3 linked regions of the Homo sapiens genome follow. The protein of the gene in region 1 interacts with the protein of each later gene in a pairwise test. Each region holds a gene or a part of one and is shown in the gene's direction. Other genes may lie near its edges.

Region 1 (7,160 bases):
GAGGATGGCTTGATCGCAGGGTTTCAAGACCAGCCTGGGCAACATAGTGAGACCTTGTCTCTACAAAATAATCAAAAAATTAGCCGGGCATGGTGGCAACCCGTGTCTGTATTCCCAGCTACTTGGAAGGCGAAGAGGAGAGAATCACCTGAAGCCGGGAAGTCTTGGCAACAATGAGCCATGATCACGCCACTGCACTCCACCCTGGGCAACAGGTGTGTCTCAAAAAAATAAAAATAAAAATAAAATTGGCTGGGCACGGTTGCTTATGCCTGTAATCCCGCATTTCGGGAGGCTGATGCAGACGTTTGAGAGGCAGATGTCACTTGAGTTTGAGAGTTTTAGACCAACTGGCCAACATGGTGAAACCCTGTCTCTACTAAAAATACAAAAATTAGCCAGGCGTGGTGGCGCATGCCTGTAATCCCAGCTACTTGAGAGGCTGAGGCAGGAAAATCGCTTGAACCCAGAAGTTGGAGGTTGCAGTGAGCCGAGATCGTGCCTCTGCACACCAGCCTGGGAGACCAAGCGAGATTGCATCAAATAAAAAAAAAAAAGAAACACAAAAATTGTCACATGGTACCATTTCAGCGCACTAAGATGGCTAGAATTAAAAAGACACAGAGCATAACAAATGTATCTGGGGATGTGGAGAAACAGGAACCCCCGGGCACTGCTGCTGGGAATGTAAAATGACAGACAATTTGAAACATAGTCTGGCTGTTCCTCAGAAGGATAAAAACACATTTGCCATGTAACCCAGCTATTCTTCTCCTTCATACGTATCCAAGAGAAGTGAAAACATAAGTCTGCACAGAAACTTTTGCGTGAATGTTCACAGCAGCGTTATTCAGAATAGCAAAAAAGGGGAAAGAACCCCAACTTCCTTTGAGGGGTGAATGGAGAAACCAAATGTGGTCTATCCACACAGTAGAATATCATTCAGCCAGAAGAAGGAATGAAGGACTGATCCGTGTTACAACACAGATGAACCTCAAGAACAGCATGTTCCGTGAAAGAAGCTAGACACAGAAGATCACGTAGTGTATAATTCTACTTATAAGAAATCTCTGGGAGAGATGCATCCATTGAGAGAGAAAGTAGATAAGCCCAGACGCAGTGGCTCATGCCAGTAATCTCAGCATTTTGGGAGGCCAAGGCGGGCAGATCACTTGAGGTCAGGAGTTCGAGACTCCTTGGCCAACATGGTGAAATCCCATCTCTCCTAAAAATACAGAAATTAGGCCAGGCTGAGTGGCAGAACAAGACTCCACCTCAAAAAAAAAAAAAAAAAAAATTGTCACGTGATACCATTTCAGCCCATTGGGATGGCTGGAATTGAAAAGACACAGAGAATAACAAGTATTGCTGAGGTTGTAGAGACACGGGAACCCTCGCACACTGCTGCTGGGAATGTAAAATGACAGACATTTTGAAAAATAGTCTGGCTGTTCCTCAAAAGGATAAAAACACATTTACCATGTAACCCAGCTATTCTTCTGCTTCATACATATGAAGTGAAAACATACGTCTGCACAGAAACTTGTACGTGAATGTTCATAGCAGCATTATTCGGAATTAGCCAAAAAGTGGAAAGAACCCAAATGTCCTTCGAGGGGTGAATGGAGAAACCAAATGTGGTCTATCCACACAGTAGAATATTATTCAGCCAGAAAAAGGAATGAAGGAATAATGCGTGTTACAACACGGATGAACCTCAAGAATAGCATGTTCAGTGAAAGAAGCTAGACACAGAAGATCACCTAGTGTATAATTCTACTTATAGGAAATGTCTGGGAGAGAGGCATCCATTGAGAGAGAAAGTAGATGAGGCCAGACACAGTGGCTCATGCCTGTAATCCCAGCACTTTGGGAGGCCAAGGCGGGCAGATCACTTGAGGTCAGGAGTTCGAGACTCCTTCATCAACATGGTGAAACCCCGTCTCTACTAAAAATACAAAAATTAGCTGGGTGTGGTGGCACGTGCCTGTAATCCCAGCTACTCGGGAGGCTGAGTCAGGAGAATTGCTTGAACCCAGGAGGCAGAGGTTGCAGTGAGCCGAGATCGTGCCACTGCCCTTCAGCCTAGACAACAGAGCGAGACTCTAAGAAAAAAAAAGAAAAAGAAAAAGTAGATGAGTGGTTATCCAGGGAAATGAGGACTGGCAGTGATGTCTCAGAAGGGCAGAATTTCTCTTAGAGGTGATAAAAATGTTCTAAAATGGGTTGTGGTGATAGCTGCACAGTTCTGTGCTTTGAATTGTACAGCTCAATGAGTGAATTGCATTGCCTGTAAATTGCATCACCATAAAGCTATAAAAACAGGGTACATACAGTCTGGGTGGATCCCAAGATGTCTTCAGATGGTGGCCTTTGAGAGTCATGAGGGGCTAGGGTTGGAGCTGAAGCCTAAAGCATGACTTTTAGCTGGTGCAGGAGTGGCTTCCTTCTGTCTCCCACTACAATTCAGAGGATACTCAGGGAAAGATCTGGACATCCTGTATGTGGAAAGGCGGTTGCGCACAGTGGAATGGACTCCTAAGTGGCAGGCAGGTGACAACCGTTGTCTACTTCACCCAAGGGAAGATTTCTCCATGGAGCGTGTTTTATAGGTTCTGTCTCTCCGAGTCCCCTTTGAGAATATAATGGGATACATTGCATCCATGCTGAATTCCTAAGCCCCAGGACCTCAGAATATGCCCTTATTTGGAAACAGGGTCTTTATGGAGGTACTTAAGGTACAATGAGGTCACTGGGGTGGATCCTACTTCTTTTTTTTTTTTTTCCGAGGGGAATTTTCATTGTTGTCCCCCAGACTGGAGTGCAGTGGCACCATCTCAGCTCACTGCAACATTCGCCTCCCGGGTTCAAGTGATTCTCCTGCCTCAGCCTCCCGAGTAGCTGGGAATACAGGTGCCGGCCACCACGCAAGGCTAATTTTTGTATTTTTAGTAGAGACAAGGTTTCACCATGTTGGCCAGGCTGGTCTAGAACTCCTGACCTTAGGTGATCTGCCCGCCTCGGCCTCCCAAAGTGTTGGGATTACAGGCGTGACCCACTGCGCCCGGCCTAGGGTGGACCCTATTTCAATATGACTGGTGTCCTTTGGAAAGGGGAAAGGGGGACAGTCACACCCAGGCAGAACGTGATGAAGATGAAGATGGCCATCTACAAGGGCAGGAGAAACCTGAACAGAATCCCAGCTCCGGGCCCTCAGAAGGACCCCACGCTGCCCACATTGACCTTGGACCTCCAGCCTGCAGATCGTGAGGGAAGAGACGTCTTCGACTTAGGGCCCCTTGTCGTGGTACTTCCTTAGTTTGGCCCCAGGAAACCATCCCAAAGGCAAGGGCGTGGTTGTGCTCAGCTGGGGGAAGGGGGCTGGGGGCCGTGAGGAGGAGGTGGGAGGCCCAGCCAGGCTGGAGGGTCAGAACCCGTGGAGCTAGAAGAGCCCGTAGGGGAGCCCCAAGATTGCTGAGACCAGTGACCTTCGGCCCCAGATGGCCTTGCCTTGGCCCAGAAGGGTCAGAAGGACCTGGTCAGCCAAGCTCAGACAGCCGGCAGGATGCCTTCCACCCTGCAGAGGGTCCTATCTTGTCCCACAGGTAGATCTACATCACCACTAGCCACCCCTCCAACGTGCACAGGCCCCTGCCCTCACGGCGCCCCTCTTAGGTCCGGCAGTTCCTGCCTCCTTCTGATCCAGAAGTTTCTCTGGCCTCTGGAGCCGGGGCACACCTCATGCAAGGACAGGGTCCAAATTCCTTTGTCCTTGGATCCCACTTGGCTGACGTCACCTTCCTGTACTCAGGGAGTTTCCCCAGCCAGCTGTCCCGAGTCTGGACTTTCCCTCTGCCCCTCCCCACTCTCAGGCTGGTGGGGTGGGGAAAGCAGCCCATTCCTGGGCTCAGAGACTCCCACCCCAGCTCAGAGGGAGCAGGGGCCCAGCCAGGGACGGACCCTCATTCCTCCCAGGGACCCCAGACCTCTGTCTCTCTCGGGTAAGTCTCCATCTCTGTCTGTCTCTGTCTCTGTCTCTGTCTCTGTCTGTTTTTCACGCACTCAGCAAGGCCTCCTGCCCTGAGAGAGGCTCCGCCCACTACCCCCCACTTTCCCCATAAAACCAGCTGAGTATTTGTGCCAGGAAGACTGCGTGCAGAAGGTGACTGTCTCAGTGGAGCTGGGTCATCTCAGGTGGGGAGTTGGGGTCCCCGAAGGTGAGGACCCTCTGGGGAGGAGGGTGCTTCTCTGAGACACTTTCTTTTCCTCACACCTGTTCCTCGCCAGCAGGCCTTGGCTCCTTGAACTTTTGGCCGCCATGTGCTTCCCGAAGGTGAGTGAGAGGCTGCGTGTGCTTTTGTGGGCATGTCTGAAAACAGACCGTAAGGGTGCGGGTGCCCTCAGTATTTCCCGAGGTGCCTGTGTGTCAGGGCTCAGTCAGGGGCACCCAGCGGCAGGAGGATAGTGATGGGGTGAGAGTGTCAGTGGAGGCGCTGGAGGTCATATGTGTCGGGGGCGCTGGAGAACGGCAGGGGTGTGGATGAGAGGGAGCACCTGTCCCAGGAGCCCTTCACAGCCCGGAAAGCCCGGGGCAGGGGTGGGGCAGGGCTCTGCTGGAAACGACTCGGAGAATGCTTCTCTCAGAGGCCGGCTCAGCTGGGTGGGCCCAAGAGCAAGGCCTGTGTGGGTCCTGGTGTCTCTTCCTCCTTTCCTGGGTTCCCTCCGACCTCCCATCCTCTACCACTGCCCCACCGCAAATGCTAGGCCCACCACACCCTCCAGGGAGCTCTTCGGCCTGTGACAATAGGGGTTTCCATGATGTGGCCTGGCTCAGGTTCAGGACAGTGACCCGGAGGACACATGGCTCCCGCATGTCGGCACGGTGCTGCTTTCACCCTGGTTCCTGGGAAATCAGGCTAGCGGGATGGGACCATCGCTGCCTGAAAGTGTGCAGACAGCTGCCCTGCCCAGAATATGTCCCCAGGCCCTGCGCACTCTGTGGGTGACTGTCACCACTCTATAGTGGGGGAAACCAGGCATGTCACCCCCGAGACTAGGCCCTTGACGTGGGGGCTCAGCGGGGATTCTGTGGGGTGCCTCTGGCCTCTGTGGATGCAGCCACGTGTCTGCAGGCAGGAATGGCCCGGGACCTGTGGGTCTGCATGTTGGCAGTCGGGAAGAGTGGCAGGTTGTAGGGTGGACCTACCTGGCACCCCAAATATTAATCAGCTCATCAGAGAGGAATGGCTGCTGTTACCTTCTCAATTGTCATGTCCCTAAACATTTTTTCCTTGGCCAACTCTCACCTGGGACCATAGTGGTTGTGGGAAACCCAGCTGAGCCAGCCTGCTCCAGGACAGTGTCCATCCTCCCGTGTGTGTACATGGGGGGGTGTGTGTGTGCAGGGAGGACACCCCGGCCCACGCAGGCCCTGCTCTTGTGAGGAGGGGTCACCTAGGCCCACGCAGGCCCTGCTCTTGTGAGGAGGGGTCACCTAGGCCCACGCAGGCCCTGCTCTTGTGAGGAGGGGTCACCTAGGCCCACGCAGGCCCTGCTCTTGTGAGGAGGGGTCACCTAGGCCCACGCAGGCCCTGCTCTTGTGAGGAGGGGTCACCTAGGCCCATGCTGGCCCTGCTCTTGGGCCTGCCCAGCTGAGCCGGCTCCTGAGAGAAGCGCTTTCTGAGTCGTTTCGAGGACAGCCCTGGCCGGTCTTTCCAGGCTGTGAGGGGCTCCTGGGACTGCTGTCTCCTCTTATCCTGTACCTCTGCCATGTGTCTCTGTGTGTGTGTGTGTGTGTGTGTGTGTGTGTGTGTGTGTATAAATTATCCTGGAGGAAAGGTTAAGGTGACACATGGAGACTGAGTGTCACCGTTATTTCCGCAGGTCCTCTCTGATGACATGAAGAAGCTGAAGGCCCGAATGGTAATGCTCCTCCCTACTTCTGCTCAGGGGTTGGGGGCCTGGGTCTCAGCGTGTGACACTGAGGACACTGTGGGACACCTGGGACCCTGGAGGGACAAGGATCCGGCCCTTTGGTGCCAACTCTGCCTCTCTTCACAGCACCAGGCCATAGAAAGATTTTATGATAAAATGCAAAATGCAGAATCAGGACGTGGACAGGTGGGTGGATTTCCCCTCAGGCACCAGGTCACATGTCCCCGCCCCCAGGCACTCCACCCTGTGTGGGGCTCAGGGTGAGAAGGATGAAGAGGGACCCACAGGCTCCCTCACCCCTTACCGTGGGCAAATGCTTGCACCTGGGTGGCAGTGAGTGGGCGGGTGGGGGATCTGGACGCCCGGGGAGACTGAGGGAGGCATCCAAGCCCCAGGGCTCCTTGAGGAAACAACAGGGGTGCCAGACGTGGCCCGGGCCCCTGGCTGGGCCCAGTTCGGGGTGTGTGGGAGCTGAGGACTCACTGGGCTTGAGGACTGACTGATGTGGGGTGCAGAGGAGGCTTGGGCCTGGAACCGAGTGCTTTGTTCCTAACAGGTGATGTCGAGCCTGGCAGAGCTGGAGGTGAGCCGTGGCCTCCCCCTCCACCAAGCTTAGTCCCTGGGTCTTAGGCTCCACAGGACACTGGGTCTGGGCCCCGGGTCCCCTTGGGAATCACCTGGACCAGTGGGGGCCACAGTGGGAAGGGGGCAGGCAGGAGCAGCATGAACCCCCTGTGCCCTCCTCTCCCCAGGACGACTTCAAAGAGGGCTACCTGGAGACAGTGGCGGCTTATTATGAGGAGCAGCACCCAGTGAGTATGACACACCCATCTGGGCACCTTGCCTTCCTTCACCTCTGCCCTGTCTTTTCTTTCTTTCTTTCTTTTTGTTTATTTGAGACAGAGTCTCGCTCTGTCGCCCAGGCTGGAGTGCAGTGGCATGATCTTGGCTCACTGCAACCTCCAAATCTCGGGTTTAAGTGATTCTCCTGCCTCAGCCTGACAAGTAGTTGGGACTACAGGCACCCGCCACCACTCCAGGCTGATTTTTTTTGTGTGTGTTTTTAGTAGAGACCAGGTTTCACCATGTTTGCCAGGCTGGTCTTGAACTCCTAACCTTGTGTTCCGTCTGCCTTGGCCTCCCAAAGTGCTGAGATTACAGGCATGAGCCACCGGGCCCAGCCAACCCCTGCCCTGTCTTGATGTGGTGTGGGCAGGGTGTGCCCA
Region 2 (7,333 bases), on another chromosome or scaffold:
CTAAGGGAGAATCTTAAAAGCTGCAAGAGATGTACAAGGGATCCTCAATAAATCCATACATCTGTGGCCAGTGAATTTTTGACAAGAGTGCCAAGTCCATTCAATGATGAAATAATAGTTTCTTTAATATATGCTGTGAGAGAAATGGATTTCCACATGCAAGACTAAAGTTGGGCTCCACTTCACACCATATGTGAAAAATAATTCACAACCTAAATATAAGAACTAAAGCCATATAGAGGAAAACGTAAGAGTAAATCTTCATGATCTTGTGTTTTGGGTTCTTAGATAAGACACTAAAAGCCCAGGAAGAAACAACAAAAAATAGGTAAATTGGAGTTCATAAAAAATGTGAAACTTTTATATCAAAGGACATTTTCAAGAAAGTGAAAGACAACCTACAGAATGGGAGAAAATATTTGTAAATCCTATGTCTGATAACATCCAGAATATGTAAAGAACACCTACAACTCGGCCGGGTGCGGTGGCTCACGCCTGTAATCCCAGCACTTTGGGAGGCCGACGTGGGCGGATCACCTAAGGTCGGGAGTTTGAGACCAGGCTGACCAACATGGAGAAACCCTGTCTCTACTAAAAATATAAAATTAGCCAGGCGTGGTGGCGTATTCCCGTAATCCCAGCTACTCGGGAGGCTGAGGCATAAGAATCACTTGAACCCAGGAGGCGGAGGTTGCGGTGAGCCGAGATCTCGCCATTGCACTCCAGCCTGGGCAACAAGAGCAAAACTCCGTCTCAAAAAACAAACAAAAAACCTACAACTCAACAACAAATAGACAAACAACCCAATTAAATGGTCAACAAAGGACTTGAATAGACATTTCTCCAAGGAAGGTATACAAATGGCCAGTAAGCACATGAAAAGATGCTCAAAGTCATTAGTCCTTAGGGAAATGCAAATCAAAACCACAATGAGATACCACTTCGCACTTGCTAGGATGGCTATAATTTAGAGGGAAAAAAAAGAAACATAACAAATGTGCGTGAGAATGTAGAGAAGTTGGAACCTGTGTACATTGTTGGTGAAAATGTGAAATGGTGTAGACGCTGTGGAAAACAGTTTGGCTGTTCCTCAGAAAGCTAAACATAGAATGACCATAGAATTGTAATACCGACAATTCCACTCCAAGGTGTATAACCAAAATTATTGAACACAGGGACTGAAACAGATACTTGTACACCAATAATCATTGCAATATTATTCACAATAGTCAAACAACAGATGAGTGGATAAACAATGCCTGGTACCCTTCCTTCCTTCCTTCCTTCCTTCCTTCCTTCCTTCCTTCCTTCCTTCCTTCCTTCCTTCCTTTCTTTTTCTTTCTCTCTTTCTTCTTTCTTTTCTTTCTGTCAGTCTTGCTCTTGTTGCCCAGGCTTGAGTGCAATGACACAATCTCAGCTCACCGCCACCTCTGCCTCCTGGGTTCAAGTGATTCTCCTGCCTCAGCCTCCCGAGTAGCTGGGACTACAGGTGCACACCACCATGCCCAGCTAATTTTTGTGTTTTTAGTAGAGATGGGGTTTCCCCACGTTGGCCAGGCGGTATACACATTTTTCTATTATTCGGCCATAAAAAGGAATGAAGTTCTGATGCATACTACAACATGGATGAAACTCAGCAACAAGGTTTTTGAGGAAAAAAAGCTTAGTGAAAAGGCCACATCTTGTAGGATTCCACTTATATGAAATACATGCAATAGACAAATTCATGGAGACAGAAAGTAGATTAGAGGCTACCAGGAGTGGAAGGAGGGGAGAATGGGGATTTATTATCCAATGAGTGCAGTGTTTCTATTTGTTTTTGTTTTTGTTTGAGACAGGGTCTCGCTCTGTCATCCAGGCTGGAGTGCAGTGCCACGATCTCAGCTCACTGCAGCCTCCGCCTCCTGGGTTCAAGCAATTCTCCTGCCTCAGCCTCTGAGTAGCTGGGATTACAGGTGTACACCACCTGGCAAATTTTTGTAGAGATGGGGTTTCGCCATGTTGGCCAGGCTGGTCTCAAACTTTTGACCTCAGGTGATCTGCATGCCTCTGCCTCCCAAAGTGCTGGGATTACAGGCGTGATCTATGGCCCCTGACCCAAGTGTTTCTATTTGGGATGATGAAAACGTTTTGAAAATAAATAGTTGTAATGGTTGCACAGCACTCTAAAGGTAATTTATGCCACTGAATTGTACACTTAAAATGGTGAAAATAGAAAATTTCATGTTATACAGATTTTGCTACCCAAAAAACAAAACAAAAAATCCAAAACCTTTATGTTATTATGAAGAAGCAGTTTTCCAAAGGAATAGGGATGCTGGTAGCAGAAGGGAAAGAAATCTCATTAAATAAAAACAAAAGCAATGACCTCTTCAGGAGGTGGCTCAGCTAGTTTAGCTTTACCTTAGCACCATGATGGTTCATTTTATTCAGAAATAGAAACATGGGGCGTTGGGGAGAAGAGGAGATGTGTACCTGCCTCACCTGCCTCCCTGCCCAGAATGCCGACTCCGACTCTTGCTTTCCACTAAGGCTGGGGATTAAATGAAAAGTGAGAATCTGGAAACCCCCAGAGATGATGTTTGTCGTTGGAGCTGATTTTATCTCATTTTAGTAGCATGACCTCCTCCTCAAACTCAGGATGCAATTATGGTCAATCTCATTAGTGTGCAGTAATTGCTCAGCCCCAATACCAGATTAGCAGGAAGTTCTGTTATTTTCCTTTTGAGGATGGGCTCCTACTGAACTGTCCTGGAATCTACCACCATTCAGGTTACAAAAGACCCAGGGAACTAGGCCAGTCCAGCTCCCAACCCCAAGCAGGGAGCAACTTGCTCAGTCCACGTTGTGATAGCTCCTCGCTGCCACAAGGTGGTGATGTTGCATCACACACGCGCATGATGGGCGCGCAGGCGCCAATGCTCCCAGGACCTGCTGTTCCATTCCTAAATGAAAGTTGTTCCCAGGATCTGGACTCACAAGACAAGGCAGCCTATTCCCTGCTGGGGAGCTCAGGGGCAAGAGGGCATCTCGGAGGGAGGGCACATTCTCACCTCTGAAGACAAGGAGAACATCATCAGCACATAGACCAATCCCAGCAGTGCACCTTAGGATGGGGAGGGCCACTGTGAGTTACAGCAAAATGAACGAATGAATGAACCAATAAATGTCTGAGAGGGAAAGTCCCAACGACCCTCAGGAGGTACAATCAAGAGTTGCAGTTATTTTCGTTAGGAACGTTCTAAACACAGGGGAAACCTTCCTTCCTTCTGCTCTATTGTTGGAGTGGGGCCATCCCGGGACACCAGAAATCAAGGAATTGAGTTTGGAGAAGGGACTTGGGGAGGTCACAGTGGCAGGTGACTGCCAAATGAGGTGGCAGAAGCCAGCAAGCGCTGGAAAAAGTCGGCCCAAACTGTTCACCAGCACCGCCCCCCATAACTCCCCACCGGCTCTGGTTTCAAGACTTTCCGTTTTCTAGGTATTTCCTTGGCCTTAAACCATTTTCCTTTAAACGAACTTTTTCTGTGAAGCCATCCGGTTTCCCCCGATAGTGGCATCTCACAAAGGACAATCCAGTATCCCAACAGCGTGTTGCGTTCCGCGGGACGCAGATTTCCTTCACAGGCACCCCCCGGGTTGCGTTTTTATAGCCACACCCACCCGCCCCCCTATCTCCTGGGCACTGCTAATGAGTCCTGCATTTCTCTCCTTTGGTCTTTGGATAAATGAACCATCCGTGCGTGACCTTTGCGAGGGCATCTTGCATAATACCAGTACACCAGCGGCGCCGTCGGTGAGTGACCTTTGGGACTGGTTTCTCTCACCAGCGTAACTCCCCGGGAGATCCGAGCAAGCTGATGAGTGTATCAGTGGCTCATTCTTTCTGTTGCACCACGGACCCTCATTCTGTAACCGGGATACCAGCCAGAGATGGGGAGCGGGAGGCGCAGGGCAGGGGCGTCCCTCCTCTCAGCACAGCCTCCCCGCGCTGGATTTCTATCAATCCAGTTTCCACCTGCCTGGAAGTCAGCAGGGTCCTCCCCAGTCCCAGATCGCCGGGCGAGGCCCCAGATGGACCTCAGGGGCGGGGAGTGGGCGGAGCTTAGGGGCCGAGGCGAGGTGTGGGTGGGGCGGGACGCCGCTGTGGAGGCGGGGCCTGGGCGCGGACGGGCGCGGAGCGAGGCACCGCACCGCCGGGGCGGGGAGTGGGCGGGGCTCGGGGGCGGGGCGGGGTGTGGGCGGGGCTCACGGGCGGGGCGGGTGAGTGGGCGGGGCCTCGGCGTGGTAGGCGCGCTGCGTAAAGAGGCCTGCAGTCCCGCGGCGCGGGGCAGGTTCCGGGCTGCTTAGGTTGGCACCGGTCCGTGGTCCCCGGGGGCGCAGTCGCAGCGCTCCCGCCCTCCAGGCGTCAGCGAGTGCGCGGTCCAGTGCGGCCGGAACCTGGCGCAACTCCTAGAGCGGTCCTTGGGGAGACGCGGGTCCCAGTCCTGCGGCTCCTACTGGGGAGTGCGCTGGTCGGAAGGTGAGTGATCCCCTGTCGGGGACCGGGGGACTTGGGAAGGACAGTTCCCGGACTGGACGGCCAGAACGCTCTCAGGGATTTCAGCTGGCCGGCCATATGGCCCTGTGGGTCGTCGCGCCCGGGCCAGGGACCATTCTGTACATAGGATCGTGCTTGGCTCTCACGGAACGCGCCCACACGCAGGGTCCCGGTGTCGAATCGTCTGGTGGAATCTGCCCTCAACCCTATGGAGCGGGTGCTGGTATCATAGTCATATTACAAGTAGGAATCAGCGGGCCCAAGGTCAGTCTGTAAAGGGGGTACCGGGGTTTAGGCCCGTGCGCTGCCCAGCGCTGCCCTGAAGGCGCGGCTGAACCACTGGTTTGCGCTGCCTTTGTCAAGGACATTGTGGCACTGTGGAAAAAATGAAAAATCAGCTTCTCTAACCTATAATCTCTCTGGGAAAAAAAAAAATCAGCTTTTTTTTTTTTCCCCGAGACGGAGTCTCACTCTGTCGCCCAGGCTGGAGTGCAGTGGCACGATTTCGGCTCACTGCAACCTCCGCCTCCCGGGTTCAAGCAATTCTCCTGCCTCAGCCTCCCGAGTACCTGGGATTATAGGGGCGTGCCACCACGCCTGGCTAATTTTTTGTATGTTTAGTAGAGACGGGTTTCATGTTGGTCAGGCTGGTCTCAAACTCCTGACCTCGTGATCCGCCCGCCTGGGCCTCCCAAAGTGCTGGGATTGCAGGCGTGAGCCACTGCTCCCGGCCCTCTTTTTCTTTTTTCTTTTTTTTTTAGAAGAGTCTCACTCTGTTGCCCAGGCTGGAGTGCAGTGGGGCAATCTCAGCTCACTGCAACCTCTGCCTTCCAGGTTCAAGCGATTCTCCCCCCTCAGCCCCTTGAGTAGCTGGGATTACAGGCGCCTGCCACCATGCCCGGCTAATTTTTGTATTTTTAGTACAGGTGGGAGTTTCACCATATTGGCCAGGCTGGTCTTGAACTCATTCTTCTTCCTTTCTTTTTCTTTTTTTTTTTTTTTTGAGATGGAGTTTCACTCTTATTGCCCAAGCTGGAGTGCAATGGCACAATCTCAGCTCACTGCAACCTCTGCCTCCCGGGTTCAAGCTATTCTCCTGCCTCAGTCTCCCGAGTAGCTGGGATTACAGGTGCGTGCCACTACACCCAGCTAATTTTTGGTATTTTTAGTAGAAATGGAGTTTCACCATATTAGTCAGGCTGGTCTCAAACTCCTGACCTCAGGTGATCCGCCTGCCTCGGCCTCCCAGAGTGCTGGGATTAATGAACCACTGCGCCCGGCCAAAAATCAGCTTCTTTAACCTTTAATCTCTGAAAAAATAAATCAGTTTAACCTTTAATCTCCGAAGATCACAGCCAAAGAAATACATGAAAAGGAACAAGTATTAAATAATATATACTTCTAGCTGTGCTGTTTATAGTTTTGGGAAAAAAATGGAAATAACCTAAGGTCCCAGAAATAGGAAAATGGGCACAAAAGGGTATGCAGGCAATGGTTTAGCTGCCGCATGAATACACACTGAATACACTGTGAGATGTTGTCTGTTAGAATGCCCAGCACGGGGACTGTCCACATGGAAAGAGGCACAGGAAAAAAAGTGAAAACATTATAAAATAACTTCTTAAAATTAAATAATGTACACGTCAAAAATATCAGAGCCCACTTGACCTGGTATATACAGTTTAATAACCACATGGCTCTTTTTTCCTGTAGGCCTGGGTAGGTGCATAGTTTCTAAAAAGGGAGAGAACTGTCACTGCTGTGGATGGGGTGCCAAGGGAAGTGCCTGGGGTCAAGTGAACAGTGACACAACTGCAAGTCAAGAGCCTGTGTTGGAGTCTTTCCCCACTATTTCAAATAGTATAGAAAATAGAGCTGAGTCACTCAAATAGAGCTGAGTTAGTCACTCAGCTCTTGGACCTCAGATTCTTATTCTTAACCGCTAGGGGGATGGAGACAGAAGTCACAAACTCACATGCCACCAGCCATATGATGTAAACATGTAAACTGGGCCAAGGAATACAAAAGGGAGTGGTGAGCTGGGGACACTGAAGAATGGATGCCCTGTCTAGAGGAGTGAAAATGAAGCATTTCATACAAACAACATGATTTCGGGCAATCACTTTGGGAATCAGGATAAGGTGTTCCCCCAGTCTGCAGAAACACTGGCAACATTTACAAAGGTAAATCATTTCATATCACTCTATTTTCTTTTTCTTTTTTGAGACAGAGTCTTGCTCTGTTGCCCAGGCTGGAGTGCAATGGCACAATCTTGACTCACTGCAACCTCCACCTCCCAGGTTCAAGTGATTCTCCTGCCTCAGCCTCCCAAGTAGCTGGGACTACAGGCACATGCCACCATACCCGGATAATTTTTGTATTTTTTAGTAGAGATGGTGTTTTGCCACATTGACCAGGCTGGTTTCAAACTCCTGACCTCAGGTGATCCCCCCACCTCGGCCCCCCAAAATGCTGGGATTACAGGTGTGAGCCACCACAACTGGCGATCATTCCATATTACTCTCCAGCTTAAGAGGCTCCAAGGGCTTTCTGTCAGGCTTAGAATAAAATCCTCACCCCTACCCTAGGAGGGGTCAGGTCAGACCCCTCCCACCTCCCTGACTGCATCTACCACCATCCACTCTTTTTTTTTTTGAACCACAGTTCAGCCAAACAGGCTTTCTTTTTTTTCTTTTACTTTCTCTTTTTTCTTGAAACAGAGCCTAACTCTGTCACCCAGTCTGGAGTGGAGCAATCCTCTAATCTCAGCCCCCTGAGTAGCTGGGATTACAG
Region 3 (6,890 bases), on another chromosome or scaffold:
CTGCGGTGGAGAGGCCCTCAGATGTTGGGTTCTTCTAACTCATGCTACCTTGTTCACGTCACTGGGATTGTCAAAAATAATTCAGCGTTTGAAATGGGGGTAGTTTTTGACCAGAAGGAAGGTATTGAGCAGGTGCATTCAAGTGTTGGTGGGAAGGGTATGAAAATGCATTATAATTTCTTAGTAAAAAGTTACAGAGGACTTGCTAATCATGACATCATTCCCCATCTTTCCCATCTCAAAAAGAAGCAACCCACTGAAAGCAAAGATCACACTACTAATTTTAATAATTCTTTGCTTCTGAGACCCTAGTAAAGGAAAAAATGGAATTATGGCAAGCTGAATAATTTTGCCAAATGTGAATTCTATATATGAAAAACATGGACCAAATCGACATAGAAAAAAATCCAACTTAATCTCATAGGAAAACAATAATATTCACCAATGGAATTGTAGGGACTTGACATTCAGAATTTCTTCACTTTTTCCTAAAGTGTTTCTTACTAAATGACATTAAAAACAGCTCAGGGCTGGGTAGGTCATTATCTTTTCCCAGAAGCAGTGCTTCTTGTTGTCTTCTACTTCTGAAGCACTTTGCTCTGTTAGGTGAATAATTCAGTTAATAAGATAAATCATCCTATGCTGATATTAAAAACTCTCTCAGCAACATATTGCTTTAACTGGACAATCTGTAACTTTGTAAAAGGACTCTCTTAGTAGCCTTGAAGCCTATTCTAAATTATTCTAATAGATAGGAGGGTTTCTATACTGGCCAATAAGTAAAGATATGATATTCCCAGGAATATCTGGTACCTAGGAAACTTCTGGTACCTCTCCACTCTTATTCTAGAGTGTGGTCCTCCCTGCCAGGCAATTTCATTTCCTCTAGGACAGTATAAATGAACAAGCCCCAGTGATTTGCCAGGGAATACATCACAGGTCAATAGCATCATTTAATTATTTTGAGTTCCAGCCTAATTGTGTTTCACATTGCCTGTTCTTTCCTACCACCAAAAGCTACGATGATGATAAACACACTCCATTAATATAAATTGCTTTTTCAGATAATGGAAACTATTTCTGGGACAGGCCTTCTAAAGTGGGAACAGTGGCTTTGTTCTCTAATGGAACTCAGTTTAGAAGAGGTGGGGGCTATGGAACCAGTGCCTTTATAACCCACGAAAGGCTGAAAAGCAGAGATTTTATAAAAGGAGATGATGTTTATATCCTACTGACAGTGGAAGGTATGTCAATAAAAATAGTTTTATATAAACTAGTTTTTTTTTGTTGTGGCCACTGATTATTTTCTGTTTTTCTTTCTGCATTCCACTTTTAGATGTATTATATAGAGATGTGGGGGGAATGGGCATGAATGGGGTTTGGGAGGAATATGAATTATTAACAATATGAAAATAATTTAATTTGAAACAGTGAGGATTCCAGAATAAAGAATTTAATGACCACCACATGAAGCTATAGCGGAAACCTTTAGGTTGGGAAATTTCTTTAGAAATAAGTTAAAATAGGCCGGGCGCAGTGGCTCATGCCTGTAATCCCAGCGCTTTGGGAGACCGAGGCGAGTGGATCACGAGGTCAGGAGATCGAGACCATCCTGGCTAACACGGTGAAACCCTGTCTCTACTAAAAACATAAAAAATTAGCTGGGCGTGGTGGCGGGCGCCTGTAGTCCCAGCTACTCGGGAGGCTGAGGCAGGAGAATGGTGTGAACCCGGGAGGCGGAGCTTGCAGTGAGCCAAGTTCGTGCCACTGCACTCCAGCCTGGGCCAAAGAGCGAGACTCCGTCTCAAAAAAAGAAAAGAAATAAGTTAAAATAGAACTATTATACCCTAGGATTCCTGAAATAAAAATATCACACAAGCACATGAAATTAAATGACTGGAAACGTCTGCATCTTACCTGTTTCAAATGTACATACATGCATACATATATGCATATATATATATATATATATATATATATATATATATATATATATATATATCTTGACAGAAATGACATTAATCTCTTGTTAGACTAATGTTAAATTTCTTACACCTGGCAGCCAATAAATACATTTTGCAGCAATTCTGGTGGTTTCTATTTTTTATGTGGTAGGATTTTAACTCATTTTCTATTAAAGACCCACTTGGATCTCAGTAAATCAGATTCTTGTTTGTGATGAAAGGTGGTGCAATTAAAACCCACAAAATTTTGACTCCAGTGTCCATTAGAGTAAATCTAGATGATACCTCTTGGAGAGATTATTCAGAAATAACTTCTGTTAAGAGAGAAAATATTTTATGTAGCAGAGAACAAAAATCAGTATGCATCAGTTCTCTTTGACCATAGCGATTTCAACCAGAAGCAATAACAAATACTGCAAAGAATGTAACACTGGTTGTCAGGGCACTTGGTGTCTTGCTCCAAATCTCCACCAATTTGCTCTACCAAGCCAGAGACCTGTGACCTTGGGCAATGCCCTCAATTACTTTACATTTCTGAGTTTTGGTTTCCTTATCTGTCTCTTGAAAGTTGGTATCAGTGGCTTGTACCCTTCTGGGCTCCCAGAATCCAGGCCAGCATGTGGTTGAGTTGGAGCCCCAGTAGGCTGGCCTAGTTTCCCTTTGCCTAGTTCTTATCTCGCTGCCTATGAATGTTGCTAGACTGTGCTTCAAGGATACCTGAATTTCTCACAAGCCTAAAATCTGATCATTGTCTATTCTGAAACTTAAGATTGGGCTTGGCATCATGGCTCACGCCTATAATCCCAGGACTCTGAGGCCGGAGTGGAAAGGCTGTCTGAGCCTGGGAGCAAAGACCAGCCTGGGCAACATTGCAAGATCTCACCTCTAAAAAAAAAAAAGAAAGAAAGAAAAAAGGAAAAAAGAAACATTAAAAGAAAATGAAAATTAAAGATCAAATGATTGTTAAACAAAAGCTGATTTCCATCCACACTCTTCCCCATCTTCCTAGACATATCTCACCTCAACTCTACACAAATCCAGCTAACACCAGCCCCTAGTGTTCAAGACCTCTGCTCAAAAACCACCTGTAAAAATGACGGTGTCTGCACTGTTCGAGATGGCAAAGCTGAGTGCAGGTAAGGATGATTTGAAAGAGATCTCTCCATTCTTTGGTTAGAAATTTTATTTCCATAATGTAGGATTAATTACTTAATAGTTCTTATGAATGAAATCAGTTGATTCTCATCTCACAGCCATTCATAGAATTTTTTTTTTATTCTCCTTTTGGGGCTTTGGATAACCTCAAGAACTATCTTTGTGATAGCCAACACAATTTTTTTATGAAAAAAATAGAACTCTATATTCTAATTGTCTGAAAAAGTCCTCATAACAGTCCAGTCATTTTAAGTGTAGCTGCCTCCATTTTCTAGATGAAGATACTGACGTTCTGAGGAGCCCTTGGCCAAGATGTGAATCTGGAGGGTGGCGGGCATGGGACACTGAGAACTAAACTTTCTCTGTTATCTGTGCTATCGGCCTTTCCTAACTTGGAGATACTGTTTTAGTATCAGATTAGGAGGAATTCCATTTTTTCTTTCCATTGTTTATACCTGTGCTCTAGGTGCTAGTCTCTCTCCAGTCCAGAGTGGGTAAAATAGTTTCATATAGCAATGACCTATTGGTGATCAAATAGACTAAAGGTGATCCACATCTTTAACTGTGAAGATTTCTGGAGTTAGATATCAACTAATAACTCTGAGTCATGCTCTCAACATGCAGGTGCCAGTCAGGGGAAGACTGGTGGTACATGGGAGAAAGGTGTGAAAAGAGAGGCTCCACCCGAGACACCATAGTCATTGCTGTTTCATCTACTGTTGCTGTGTTTGCCTTGATGCTGATCATCACCCTTGTCAGTGTCTATTGCACCAGGAAGAAATATCGTGAAAGGATGAGCTCAAATCGACCAAATTTGACTCCGCAAAATGTAAGTTGAGGCTGATGTTTGATTATTCATAACCTATTGGTGAAATCTTATGGAGAGGAACTAGGACATTTTTTATATACTTTGGTTCTTGCCTTCTTCTCTCTGTTTCCTATGCTGGGACAACTGATTTCAGATTATAAAAGTTCCTATTACTTTCACTGTAAATCAACGATTCTTAAACTGGGATTTATGGAGGTTCATTATCCTCCTGGAATTGTATACAACATTGTGTACAGTTGTGTGTGTGGGTTTTTTTCCTGGAGTGTGGGGTGGTCTGTGACCTGAAAGGCACAACTGATTTTGCCTGAAAGTTCAAACCTTCCTGGTAAAGGGAAGAGGTGGCCTGCAAGTGTTTTTGTTCTAAAGGTCTTGTAGTGGTGGTGAGCTGAGGCCATAGGAAGGGGATGCAGGCATGTTTGGGGAAGCTTTTTCATTAAAGAAGGTTCCAGTTCATTCTGGCTTCATGTGGAATAACTAATTCTAAGGCAAGTTTTCAAGTAAAGGATTTAAAGTCTTGCCTCAAAAAATCTCTAGAATGCTAATAGACTCCTGAAACGATCCTGTTTCCAGTGGGTCCCTTGGGAAGCTGACTCTGAGATGGATATTTGTACGCAGGAGGTTTATTGGGGAGGGCTCCTGGAACACGTATAATAGGCTGAGGGAGCTGGCCTGGGCAGAGGGTGAGGTTGGAATGTGATGTGGTTGCAGCTGAGGCCTCAGCCCATCCTTCAGGGAGCTCTGGAGTGGGGATGACTCCCTCTTAGGCACGTCCTGAATCGAGGGAGGGGGCCAGGCCTTTGTACTCCCATCACTGGAAGGGGGCTGCCCTCAAAGAGGGGGCATAAAATTGGGCAAGGCAACGGCCTTTGGGGGAGGGCATTTCTTGCATAACAGCCTTCATTCAAAGGGCAGGACAAAGCAGCAGTTCCCTAGCATCCACTACATACTCCAGCAGTAGAGTACAGAGTTTTACATGCAGATTCATATTCCTCTCAAAGAAGCACAGAGAAAGTGGCATAAAATCTGAGCATTACTTAAAAGTGAAGCCCTAAAATTCTTCCATTTCTATTTCATTCCAATTGGAGTCTCTGAAAATTGCTACTGAAGCCAGTCAGAAAAAATGCCCAATTAGAATATCTCCAAAAATAAAAATACTGCAATTGGCTAAAGCAAGAGTACATTTTCTTAAGAAAAACGATTATTCAAGACATACTATATTTAAAGCTACGAGTTTTTAAAGGGGACAGCCTGGTATCAAGTCAGTCAAAACATGAACAATGATAATGAACTGAAAGCAAATCGTTGTATTATCGTAGGCTGTTGTCCTATTTCCTCAACATCAGGAAGATGTTTAATGCTAATAATAAGGCAATAGATCAATTACTTCACAAAATTATTAGAAAAGTATTTAAAATATAAACAGGTTGTTTTGTTTTAAGACAACTTTCAGCTTATTTTATGACTCAAAATAAAAGGGGAAGATCAGTGAATACTTGGCCTGGTAGGTCAACCTGATGGCAGCTGTGCCTGCAAGTTCGGTCTCCTGGGCCATTGGGATGAGCCAGGAGTTGGTGCATGGAAGGTGGAAGAGTAGAAGGGCAGGAGGGGACAAGTTAACTGGGTGGATGGGATTGCCAGGATATTTCCCTGACAATGAATGGGTAGTGTAACAGCTGTTATAAGCAAGTATAAACTTGCTTAGCAAGTAAAAACTGGAAGGAGTTAAAGAAAAATGACAAAACCAAAGAGAAGAGAAAGAAGGAAGCTAGGAAGCTAAGTCAATAAAGCAGGGAAACCATGACAGTATTAGAGACATGGTAAGGATAGTAAGTGGAAACACACATGCACACACACACACACACACACTCCATAATATTACAACAGAGCTGTTTTGTTTCTGGGTCATTTAAACACATTCCTAAGGACAAGGCAGTTGACTTACATTATCTTAGGCTAGGCATTTCTACAGCTAATTCACTGGTAACAGATCTCCCAGATGTCGTTTAGATCTTAAATCAGAATGACCTTTTTTTCTGAGGCGAATGTATGTGTTCACCCTAATGTTTTAGCATCTGAATAATGTGGGCCCGAAAAGCCAGGGCTCGAAATGGAGACCAGGAGCAGGAGCCATTGCCAGCTAGGAGGGAGGCCAGGAGACTGCTGATGGGGACTTCATTTAAAGACCAGATCATTTTATTATGATTCATTTAAATAGCAGTTTTTAAATTTAGAAATTAAATCATCAATTGTTCTTTCCCCTTTTAGCAGCATGCTTTTTGAAGATTAACTCGACAATATGGCCAGCTAATGAAATTAAAAAGGATTCTTCATCATGGATTTCGCCTAAGTGATATTACAGCCACCTCATTCTTCTAAAAGTGGATATTTTTCTGTAAATAGCTGGAAATATTATAAATCACTATTTTGGTCAAAGTCAAATTGGTGAAATGCTGTTTGTGTTTCCTTCTTTTAAATGAGAGAAAAGCAATTCAGGCTCTTCTGGAAGTATAATATTGTCTAGAAAAAAGGGAGAGCAACAGTTAGAGATGGCTTTTCAAATTACTGATCCTTCCATATGGGGGCCAAGTGTGGTGTCCTCACAAGTGATTCCTTAGAAACCCACTAGAAACACCCAATGGGAATGATCATCCATGCAGAATCACAGCAGTTTCAGTGCCATCCTTTCCCAGCATTGGGAAGGGTAATGAGACAGCTCCCCACTCTCTGTCAATATACATTCTTCTCCAAAACTGGCTACTCTTGTTTTCTTATATAATCCCTTTGGTACATGAGCTTGGTTTAGAATTTGTTTGAGCATACGACTGTAATCAGCAAGAAAACCTTTCACTCTTTGAGTGGCAAGTCTCCAAGTTTTGGATCTCAGGAATCTTTACACTTTAAAAATTACTGAGGATCTCAAATAGGTTACTGAGGATCTCAAA

The links.
Region 2: the proteins of IL32 (region 1) and NQO2 interact in a two-hybrid assay, tested with the Homo sapiens proteins (one study listed by BioGRID).
Region 3: the proteins of IL32 (region 1) and MEP1B interact in a protein complementation assay, tested with the Homo sapiens proteins (one study listed by IntAct).

What each region holds. Positions count from the first base shown.
Region 1 is NC_000016.10:3,061,494-3,068,653, forward strand, and holds the start of IL32 (interleukin-32), read left to right. Parts: upstream 1-4,146; 5' UTR 4,147-4,194; exon of another isoform or gene 4,195-4,290; 5' UTR 4,291-4,318; coding exon 4,319-4,333; intron 4,334-5,883; coding exon 5,884-5,922; coding exon of another isoform or gene 5,923-6,060; coding exon 6,061-6,120; intron 6,121-6,490; coding exon 6,491-6,517; intron 6,518-6,686; coding exon 6,687-6,746; intron 6,747-7,160.
Region 2 is NC_000006.12:2,995,564-3,002,896, forward strand, and holds the start of NQO2 (ribosyldihydronicotinamide dehydrogenase [quinone]), read left to right. Parts: upstream 1-4,330; 5' UTR 4,331-4,522; exon of another isoform or gene 4,523-4,804; intron 4,805-6,486; exon of another isoform or gene 6,487-6,723; intron 6,724-7,333. UniProt on the Homo sapiens protein: The enzyme apparently serves as a quinone reductase in connection with conjugation reactions of hydroquinones involved in detoxification pathways as well as in biosynthetic processes such as the vitamin K-dependent gamma-carboxylation of glutamate residues in prothrombin synthesis.
Region 3 is NC_000018.10:32,214,018-32,220,907, forward strand, and holds the end of MEP1B (meprin A subunit beta isoform 1 precursor), read left to right. Parts: intron 1-1,064; coding exon 1,065-1,244; intron 1,245-2,973; coding exon 2,974-3,100; intron 3,101-3,743; coding exon 3,744-3,948; intron 3,949-6,213; coding exon 6,214-6,228; 3' UTR 6,229-6,387; downstream 6,388-6,890. UniProt on the Homo sapiens protein: Membrane metallopeptidase that sheds many membrane-bound proteins. Exhibits a strong preference for acidic amino acids at the P1' position. Known substrates include: FGF19, VGFA, IL1B, IL18, procollagen I and III, E-cadherin, KLK7, gastrin, ADAM10, tenascin-C.